Linked DNA regions of Homo sapiens. The protein of the gene in region 2 purifies or fractionates together with the protein of the main gene of each other region. This does not show direct contact. Each region holds a gene or a part of one and is shown on either strand. Other genes may lie near its edges.

Evidence for each region.
Region 1: the proteins of ACADL (region 2) and SYT2 purify together in Homo sapiens (affinity purification with mass spectrometry; 3 studies listed by BioGRID and IntAct, with this or other methods). This does not show direct contact.
Region 3: the proteins of ACADL (region 2) and RAP1B purify together in Homo sapiens (affinity purification with mass spectrometry; one large-scale study listed by BioGRID and IntAct). This does not show direct contact.

The regions. Positions count from the first base shown.
Region 1 is NC_000001.11:202,605,861-202,609,522, forward strand, and holds part of SYT2 (synaptotagmin-2), read right to left. Parts: intron 3,081-3,662; exon of another isoform or gene 84-3,080; coding exon of another isoform or gene 1-83. UniProt on the Homo sapiens protein: Exhibits calcium-dependent phospholipid and inositol polyphosphate binding properties. May have a regulatory role in the membrane interactions during trafficking of synaptic vesicles at the active zone of the synapse.
Region 2 is NC_000002.12:210,218,916-210,222,577, forward strand, and holds part of ACADL (long-chain specific acyl-CoA dehydrogenase, mitochondrial precursor), read right to left. Parts: intron 1,888-3,662; coding exon 1,732-1,887; intron 1-1,731. UniProt on the Homo sapiens protein: Long-chain specific acyl-CoA dehydrogenase is one of the acyl-CoA dehydrogenases that catalyze the first step of mitochondrial fatty acid beta-oxidation, an aerobic process breaking down fatty acids into acetyl-CoA and allowing the production of energy from fats.
Region 3 is NC_000012.12:68,669,823-68,672,487, forward strand, and holds the end of RAP1B (ras-related protein Rap-1b isoform 1 precursor), read left to right. Parts: 3' UTR 1-2,079; downstream 2,080-2,665. UniProt on the Homo sapiens protein: GTP-binding protein that possesses intrinsic GTPase activity. Contributes to the polarizing activity of KRIT1 and CDH5 in the establishment and maintenance of correct endothelial cell polarity and vascular lumen.

The DNA.
Region 1 (3,662 bases), on a different chromosome or scaffold from region 2:
AGGACCAGGAGAAGCTCTTTATAGATCAAAGATATTTTGCATAATATTAACAACTGTAGTAAACCAATAATAATAGACATCATCCAATTAGTACACAGTCAGCCTGAGCAGCATAGCAAGACCCTATCTTTAGAAATTTTTTTTTTTTAGTTAGGCATAGTGGGGGCTGAAGTGATAGAGGATCACTTGAGTCCAGGAGTTTGAGGTTACATGAGCTATGGGTGATTAAGTAAGGTTCTGTCTCTTAAAAAAAATAGTACATATATGTGCCAAGCACTGTGCAAAACACTTTCCATGCATTATTCATCTAATCCAAAAAATAACCTAATGGTTTTTATTGGTTCCATTTAACAGATGGGGAAACAGGTTCAGAGAGGTTAGATAGTTTTTCCAAGGTCACTTAGCTGTAAGTTCTGAAACTGAGGTTTGAACTGGTCTGCCCAACTCCAGAGCCTGTATAGCTAATCACTCTCCTATATCTCATTGAAATCTAACCTCACCACTCTAGGAAGGAGACAAGGTTTTACACTGAGGGCTCCTCTTTCAACCTCTCTCCTTGACTTCCAAGGATTTCTAGATACTACTCTGCCTAGAATCTCTGCCCAGCTCCATGACACTTGACTCTCCTCATCCCTGACTCCAATTCCTCCTCCTGCCCCGCGAGACTCCTCAGCTCTCTGCGGTTTCTTCACGGGCTCCCTCAGTGCCCACTCAGGGTTTGTTTTGACCTCTCCTGTAGGAAGACGGCACCCACATCTCCATCTCTAGCCCTTCCTCCCCGGTCTACTCTGTGGCCCCTACTCCAGGTTCATCTCTAGCCCTGCCCCCACATGCAGCTGTAGATTAGCCTTCCCGCATCAAAGATGTGATGTTTATTAATAACATAACCCAGACTTACTGTAGAAAATTTGGGGAGAGAGAGAGAAATCCCCCCATAATTCTACCCTCCAAAGTCAACTAGCATTTGGGGCATTCTATGCTGGTATTTTTTCTGAGTATGTTTTACATGTTGAGACCATACTATGTATAGTTTTTTTTCAAGATTTTTTACATAAAATTTCATCATAAGCCTTTTCCTTTATTGTTTTTTATTATTAAATAGCTACATAATATCCTACTATATGGTAACACCATAATTTTTTTAGCCATTCCACTGGTAGACATTTAGGCAGTTTTCAACTTTTTCCTAGTAAAACACTGAGCATAAATGTTGGTCTTCATTTAAGGCAATGTTCTTACGAGCTTCCAAACTCTGCCCCCCATAATTCTGTCCTCTCCACCAAGCTCTTTCTGCTCCTCAGGGCTATGCACTTATTTCTCAACTGAAAGTCCCATGAGGGCAGATCCTGTGTTGGCAACAGCACCCCTTGTGCCAAGCACACAGCGGGCACTCTGGGTATTTGTTGACTGGGCTCCTCTGAGGGAACATAGCAGCATACACCCACAGGTATTCCAGGATGCAAGAATAAACAGCACAACTCCCTGAGGCATCCGTTTTACTGAATGGCAATTTACAGTATTTTTAAATTAAAACAAGCTGGAAATAATAGAGTAGGATGCATACAGCACAAGAATTTAAAGAAAAAATGTGAGACTTTTCTCACTGCACGTTAGGTATGAGTTAACTCTCCTCTAGACTCAGGGTTCTTCTGAAGGAACATTTTAGGAGCTCTTAAGTTCTGTCCCTTCCTTTAAAAACCTGCTGAGATCCCCTCCCCAGCCCTGGAGACTGCTCCAGCCTTAAGTACTTCTGGTGGCCTGTACATTGATGCAATGTAGGTTCATTCACCAAGCATTTATTTAACTCTTACTGTCTGCCATGTTGAAATAGCCTTGACCCCAAAACTGGTCTTGAAGTGAAAAACCAAGGTCCACTGGACTTCGCCTCTGGGGACAAAGAGATGGGTCCGGTTTGGCGGGAACTGCAAGTAGCCACACAAAGGGATAAAGATGTGTGTCCAGGGCCTTCCGCCATGTCCATCTCCCCTCACTTCTACCACACTGTTCAGGGCTCTGTGACCTTTTTTTTTTAAAAAACAGCTTTATTGAGATGTAATTCACATATGTCACCCTTTAAAGTACACAGTTCAGTGCATTTTATTGTATTCACAGAATAGTGGAACAATTAGCATAACCTAAGTTAGAACATTTTTGCCACCTCAAAAAGAAACCCAGTCCCATTAGCAGTCACTCTCCATTCCCATCCTCTTCCCAGCTCCAGCAACCACTAATCTACTTTCTGACTCTATAGATTTGTCTATCCTAAACATTTCCTATCAATGGAATTATAAAATATGTGGTCTTTGTGACTGGCTTCTTTCATTTAGTATGATGTTTTCAAGGTTCATCTATGTTGTAGCATGTATCAGTATTTCATTCCCTTTTTATTGCCACATAGTATTCCATTGTGTAGATAGAAAACATTTTTTTTTTTTTTTGAGACAGGGTCTCACTCTGTCACCCAGCTGGAGTGCAGTGGTGCAACCACTTACTACAGCCTCCACCTCCAGGGCTCAAGTGATCATCCCACCTCAGCTTCCCGAGTAGCTGGGATTACAGGTGCATGCCATCACACCAAGCTAATTTTTTAATTTTTTGTAGATATGGGGTCTCCCTATATTGCCCAGGCTGGTCTCGAGCTCCTGGCCTCAAGCAATCCTCCCACTTCAGCCTCCAAAATGTTGGCATTACAGGCATGAGCCACCGCACCTTGCCTAGAACATATTTTATATTTATCCATTCATCAATTTATAAATATTTGGGTTATTTCCACTTTGGGCTATTTTATAACTAAATATAGCTAATAATATCCCACTTGTGGGATATTATGAATAATGCTGCTATGAACATCCATGCATAAGTTTTTGCGTGGACATATGTTTTCATTTCTCTTGGGTATATACATAGGTATGGAATTGCTGGGTCATAACTATGTTTGACATTTTAAGGTGCCAGCACCAATTTATGTTCCCACCAGCAATGTATGAGGGTTCCAAGTTTTCCACATCCCAGACAACACTTATTTTTTTATTATACTTTAAATTTTAGGGTACATGTGCACAATGTGCAGGTTAGTTACATGTGTATACATGTGCCATGTTGGTGTGCTGCACCCATTAACTCGTCATTTAACATTAGGTATATCTCCTAATGCTAACCCTCCACCCTCCCCCCACCCCACAACAGGCCCCAGAGTGTGATGTTCCCCTTCCTGTGTCCATGTGTTCTCATTGTTCAATTCCCACCTATGAGTGAGAACATGCGGTGTTTGGTTTTTTGTCCTTGCGATAGTTTGCTGAGAATGATGGTTTCCAGCTTCATCCATGTCCCTACAAAGGACATGAACTCATCATTTTTTATGGCTGCATAGTATTCCATGGTGTATGTGTGCCACATTTTCTTAATCCAGTCTTATCATTGTTGGACATTTGGGTTGGTTCCAAGTCTTTGCTATTGTGAATAGTGCCGCAATGAACATACGTGTGCATGTGTCTTTATAATCCTTGACTTATAATCCATGACTTATAATCCTTTGGGTATATACCCAGTAATGGGATTGCTGGATCAAATGGTATTTCTAGTTCTAGACCCCTGAGGAATCGCCACACTGACTTCCACAATGGTTGAACTAGTACAGTCCCACCAACAGTGTAAAAGTGTTC
Region 2 (3,662 bases):
ATTAGATATTTGTGTAAGGTAGGCAACCTCAGCTTTTCTTCTTTAAAAATGAGAATGGCAGAATGAGGAAACAGATGGCTAGTTGGAGATAGTGAAAAAATATCTGAGAATTTTTGTATTTTTAAGTGGATTATAGTGAGATATGGGGTATTTGAAGATACTGACACTACAAAAATTTTTAAGACTTGGATTATCATGTGTGTTTTGAATACAGTTCTTGCTTAAAGTAGCTTTGGAAATATTTTTATTATTGACTTAAAATTTGTCAGCTCCTATTATTTTATTTCAAAGCCTTCTTAACATTTTTTCTGGAATAAAATTTAAAAGCAGTGAGAAATAAACAAGAGATCCTACCAGAGCAAAGTGTACAATGTCTCTTTTGTCTTTAAGAAGCTAGTTGAAGCCCGATGTGGTGGTTCACACCTGTAATCCCAGCACTTTGGGAGGCTAAGGCAGGAGGATCGCTTGAGCCCAGAAGTTCAAGGCTGCAGTGAGCTATGATCATGCCCCTGCACTCCAGCCTTGGCAACAGAGTGAGACCATGTCTTAAAAAACACACAAACACACAAACAAACAAACAAGTCCTCAAAAAACAGAAGCTAGTTGCTTTTCACCGAAGACTAGTCATGGCTTCTGGCTTCTGAGTTTAGCTTATTTTGGTCATTCTTACCAAGAAGGTATTAGTAAAAACCTAATGGAAGTTACTTTTAATGCTATTTAAAAACCATTCTAAATGTTTTAAAGTACGGATGTCTCTGTACTTTATGACAGTTCAACTTACAATTTTTTTACTTATGATGGTGCAAAAGCAATACACATTCAGTCGAAAACATGCTTACTTCAAGTATCCATATAACCATTTTGTTTTTCACTTTAACATATATTAAATATATTTAATATATTACATGAGTTATTTAATACTTTACTACAAAGTAGACATTGTGTTAGATGATTTTGCCTAACTGTAGGCTTATGTAATTGTTTTGAGCATGTTTAATGTAGGCTGGCCTAAACTATGGGGTTTAGTAGGCTAGGTGTGTAAAACCTCACAAACCTATGATGTTCCTGAACCATTTCTCTCTTCATTTTACTAATCTTCTAATTTCTGCTTCTAACATAATAACGGTGCCGAGAATTTTTTTGTTTTTATAATAACATAGTAACAGTGTTAACATAATAACAATGCATTTTTGACTTATGATATTTTCAACTTGTAACCCCATACTAAATTGAGGAGCATCTGTACTAGCATTGAGTGAATTTTGGAAATGAAGCAAAATCTTATTGTAATAGAAATAGATAAGTTTCTGGTCAATAAAATAATAATAATTAGTTAATCAAGAACTATCCAGAGGTAACCAATTGCTTACCAAGGTTTGCATTGTGCTGACTTTTTGGGTTTTTACAGTTTAATTAATTCATGAAGCAGAAAAAGAAAGACTATGAAATTGACTAGTATTTTGTTACCACTTACCCATGGTTTTCAAAAACACTACTCTTAGACTAAGTTGTAAATTTTCAAATTTTCTTATTTGTGTATAGTACATTTTAAAATTCATTTAAAAAGCTCTAAGAATCCTGGGATCTTATAGTACTACAGTGAAGAGCAGTAAAAATGTTAATAAAGCCCTGAACATACTATGTTTTCTGTATAGCAATATATGGCATTCTAGGAAATGGTCCTATAATACCCCTAGTATACATTACATTAGAGGAAAATGTGCCACTTACTCTGAGTGATGAGGAATCACTTCTTCTTGGAAAAACTTCCTTACACTTTTCCGGAAAATGTCATGCTCTGGAGAAAAGATTCTTCGAATTCCTATATCTGTTAATTTTTTAGCAGAAGGAGTTTCTAGACGTTCTTCCCCTCCGGAATGAGAACATCTTAAAAATATATATATGCAATAGGAAAAGTAAGTGAATTGTTACTCTTCATATCCAAATTAGTGCCACTGAACAACATGGATTTCTTTCACAGAGAAACTTGAGAGGCAAGTAGAAAGAGTTTGAATTATGACAAAGCTGGGTTCAAATTTGGGCGCCACCACTTTTGATGGGATCTACCTCATGTAGCTGGAATTAAGAAGTACCTTATCATTATTCAACTCGGTCTCCATCTCCAAATCCTTAAAGAAGATGATGCCTAGAACTAACCACAGGTCTGACTTGAGGTGAAATGTAGTATTGTCAGGTGACATATGGATCACATTATGTAAAATTCAAATAGTACGGTAGAGTAATACTGATAAATTTTCATATCATATACAATGTTTAAAATAATGCAAAGCCTCCAAAATTAGTATTTTAACCAGAATCACACAATTTCAAATTGCAGGTGTATAAGATGCAAACCATGTTGATGTAATCGCCACATTACAAAGCCAATCTGGGTGGAGATAAAAATACCCATCAATCTCTGATAAAGATTCTGTAAAATGGAATTATTTAAGACCTACTCCCATCCCTCCCACACCAAGCTTCAAATGAGACAGTTTTGTAGCTCCTTTAGTTCAGTGGTCTTCAGCCTTTTTTACCCTTGAAGTACCCCTGAAAGAAATTTTGAAAATCTATGCATCATTTTGTACATTTTCAAGTTCACATCTAAAAAACTTATCATATATTCAAATCTTGCCAAAGGATGCTTTTTCTATTTTGCATTAAATTCTAATTTAGTGTATTTCTTCCTTAGTTGGACTCTGCCTTTTCTTTTCTAGTCCTTATCCAGAAAAGATCTATTTCATGTAATTAATCAAAGTAGACTTAAAGGGTTTTTAAAAAAATAACTTTTTACTATTACATGTTTCTTTCCTTTTTTTTTTTTTTTGTTTGAGATGGAGTCTGGCTCTGTCGCCCAGGCTGGAATGCAGTGATGCAATCTTGGCTCACTGCAACCTTCGCCTTCCCGGTTCAAGCCATTCTTCTGCCTCAGCCTCTGTAGTAGCTGAGATTGCAGGCGCCTGCCACACATACCCAGCTAAGTTTTGTATTTTTAGTAGAGACGGGGTTTCACCATGTTGACCAGGTTGGTTTTGAACTCCTGACCTCAAGTGATACACCCATCTCAGCTTCCAAAGGGCTGAGACTACAGGCATGAGCTATTGTGCCCAGTCGCTATTACAACCTATTTCTAAGTTTTCCCTAAGTATCATTTTTTTTGTGGCTTATTCATTCATTTAGTTAGCAAATATTTACTGAGTGCCAATTCTGTGCCAGGCACTGTTCTAGTAACTTGGGATACAATAACGAACAAAGGACTAAGATGAGGACAAAGATCTTGGCTTTTAAGCTTACATTCTAACAAAGGGAAACTGAATAAACAATAAACTATAAATATGCAAATTGTATAATACCTTAGAAGGTGGTAAGTATTATGGAGAAAGAAAAGTAGAGAAGGGATCAGGAGTATGTGCCTGGGGGGAGGCAGAGACAGAGGTTGCCGTATGAAATAATGTAGTAGGCGGGGCTTGGTGGCTCACACCTGTAATCCCAGCACTTTGGGAGGCCGAGGCCTGAGGATTGCTTGAGCTGAGGAGTTTGAAACCAGTCTGGGCAACATAGTGAGCCTTGTCACTAAAAACAAACAAACAAACAAAAAAAAAAAAAAAAGGAAAAGAAAAAAAAGTGCTGCAGTCAGGGTAGGTTAAACCAGAAAGGTGAGA
Region 3 (2,665 bases), on a different chromosome or scaffold from region 2:
ATTAAGCAAAATGATCTTAAAGTTCAAGTGAAAGAGTAGAGTAGAACTGAGTCCAGAACTAGATTCCAGTATATGACGTTTATACGTGACAAAAATATATTTCTTTTTCTTTCTTTTTTTTTTTTTTTTTTTTGAGACAGTTTCCCTCTTGTTGCCCAGACTGGAGTATAATGGCACGATCTTGGTTCACCACAACCTCCGCCTCCCAGGTTCAAGTGATTCTCCTGCCTCAGCCTCCCGAGTAGCTGGGATTACAGGCATGTGCCACCACGCCTGGGCTAATTTTGTATTTTAGTAGAGATGGGGTTTCTCCATGTTGGTCAGGCTAGTTGCGAACTCCCAACCTCAGGTCATCTGCCCGCCTCAGCCTCCCAAAGTACTGGGATTACAGGTGTGAGCCACTGTGCCCGGCCGACAAAAATATATTTCAATAGAAAATAGTATCAGTAAAATGCTAGCACAACTAACTATCTGTCTAAAGACAATAAAAGTTCAACCCCTATATCATGCAAAAAGCACTTTCCAGATATATTAAAATGTTTTCAAGCTATAAAGTAAAACAGTAGAAGTCTTAGAAGAAAATCTAAGAGACTAGAAATCTAGAGATAGGGTAGACCTTCTTAGCTAATTTTTAAAAATGAAGCTATATTTAAGATATATATTTCAAGTAAATAATAAGTGTGTGTGTGTGTACACACAGATGCTTCTCAGCTTACAATGGGGTTATGTCCCAATAAGCCCATCAGAAGTCAAAAATGTAAGTCGAAAATGCATTTAATACCCTGATAAATCCATCACAAAGCTGAAAAATTATAAGTAAAACTGTAAGTCACAGACTGTATATATAAATTTAAAATTTGGCAAAATATATTGCAAAGTCAAATTTGGGAAAGTATAGCACAGATAAAAGATTAAACTATTCACGGCCAGGCACGGTGGATCATGCCTGTAATCCCAACACTTTGGGAGGCCGAGGCGGGTGGATCACCTGAGGTCAGGAGTTTGAGACTAGCCTGGCCAACGTGGAGAAACCCCATCTCTACTAAAAATACAAAATTAGCTGGGTGTGGTGGTGCATGCCTGTAATCCTAGCTACTCAGGAGGCTGAGGCAGGAGAATTGCTTGAACCTAGGAGGCGAAAGTTGCAGTGAGCCAAGATGGTGCCATTGCACTCCAGCCTGGGCAACAAGAGTGATACTCCGTTTAAAAAAAAAAAAAAAAAAAAAGGTAAACTATTCAAAAGATAAATGGTTGAAAGATATATAACTAGGCAGTTTAGATAAGAACAAATCCAAATGGCCCATCAACATAAAAAGATGCTCTAACTGTAGCCAGAGAAATACGAATCAAAGTACCAACGAGCCCAACACATGGACGAAAACTTCAGAGAACACTACAGTCCCAGAAGAGAGGTAAAGGGCAAGAAATGAATCATTTATTGCTGATGGAAATGTGCATTGTAGAGCTGATATCTGTTCAAATTAAATATGCATATTTGACCTCAATTCTACTACTGATATCTACACCAAGGAAATGAAAGGAAATGCACAAGATTATTTATTGCCACACTCTAGAAGGAAAAACAGAGTGCATGCCCATCAATAGAATAGTTGAATAAATTATGATTCATGCATAATATAGAACATTATGCATTCATTTAAAAATGAGTTTGATGTTTAAAGGTTGACTTAGAAGGATTCCCGTGCAAAGTGAACAAAACAGAATACCGAGAAGGATGTATGTGAGGGATGCATGTGGGCACCTGGGAAAGGAGATGAAGAAAGCAACTGAAGGATATTTACCAAGTTGTTAATATGCATTACCTGACATGGTGATATAGGAGTAGGGGTGAGGAAGTGAAGGATCTGAGTAGGTGGAAAAAGAAAAGCAAAAGTACAACAGCGGGAGAAAAAACAGGATGACTCGTCTAGAAGAGACATTGTCAGTAACAAGTAAATAACATTTTCTGGAATATAAAAAAAAAAGCTATATGAATGTCATCATTATATGTAAAATATGAATGTAAAATACATGGGAGGATAATATGCATTAATAAAAATTATGGTGCTGGCAACAGTATCATGGATGACTGTATTATTATTTCCTTTTCCTTAACATTGTTATGCTATCTTTGAGTAAAATTAATTTTAGAAATTTAAAAATAATTGTCATTATACTTAAACCTTATATTTAAACAAGAAAATAATTCAAAAAACCAAAGCAGTTTAACTTTCTTTCATTACCTGAAATTCAGCCTTTTTACACAGCTAGAGAACTTCAGTTGATCTTGTGAAGGACAAAGAAGCAGAAAGACTTCTCTAGGATGTTGGGTTTCCTAAAAGTTAAACTCAATCATTTAAAGTTGCAAATAGGTAGGCAGGATGGATTCTGAAGCACAGATTTCCCAAATGCCCTTTTTGCAGCAGATTCAGCTTCTAAACAAGTTTCAAGGGCAATGTTCATGATAGACGCAACTTTTTCTTAACATTATATTGCATTGTCAATATGTATTCCATCATTTTATGCTTTTCAATGCACTTCCATTTATAAAAGCCGCATAGTTTGCTCTTATATGCCAATATGTTTGTAGCTCAAAATATACTTGAAATATTTTAAGTCCGTTTGTGCTCTTGATTTATGAACTAAATATACTACATTTTCCATT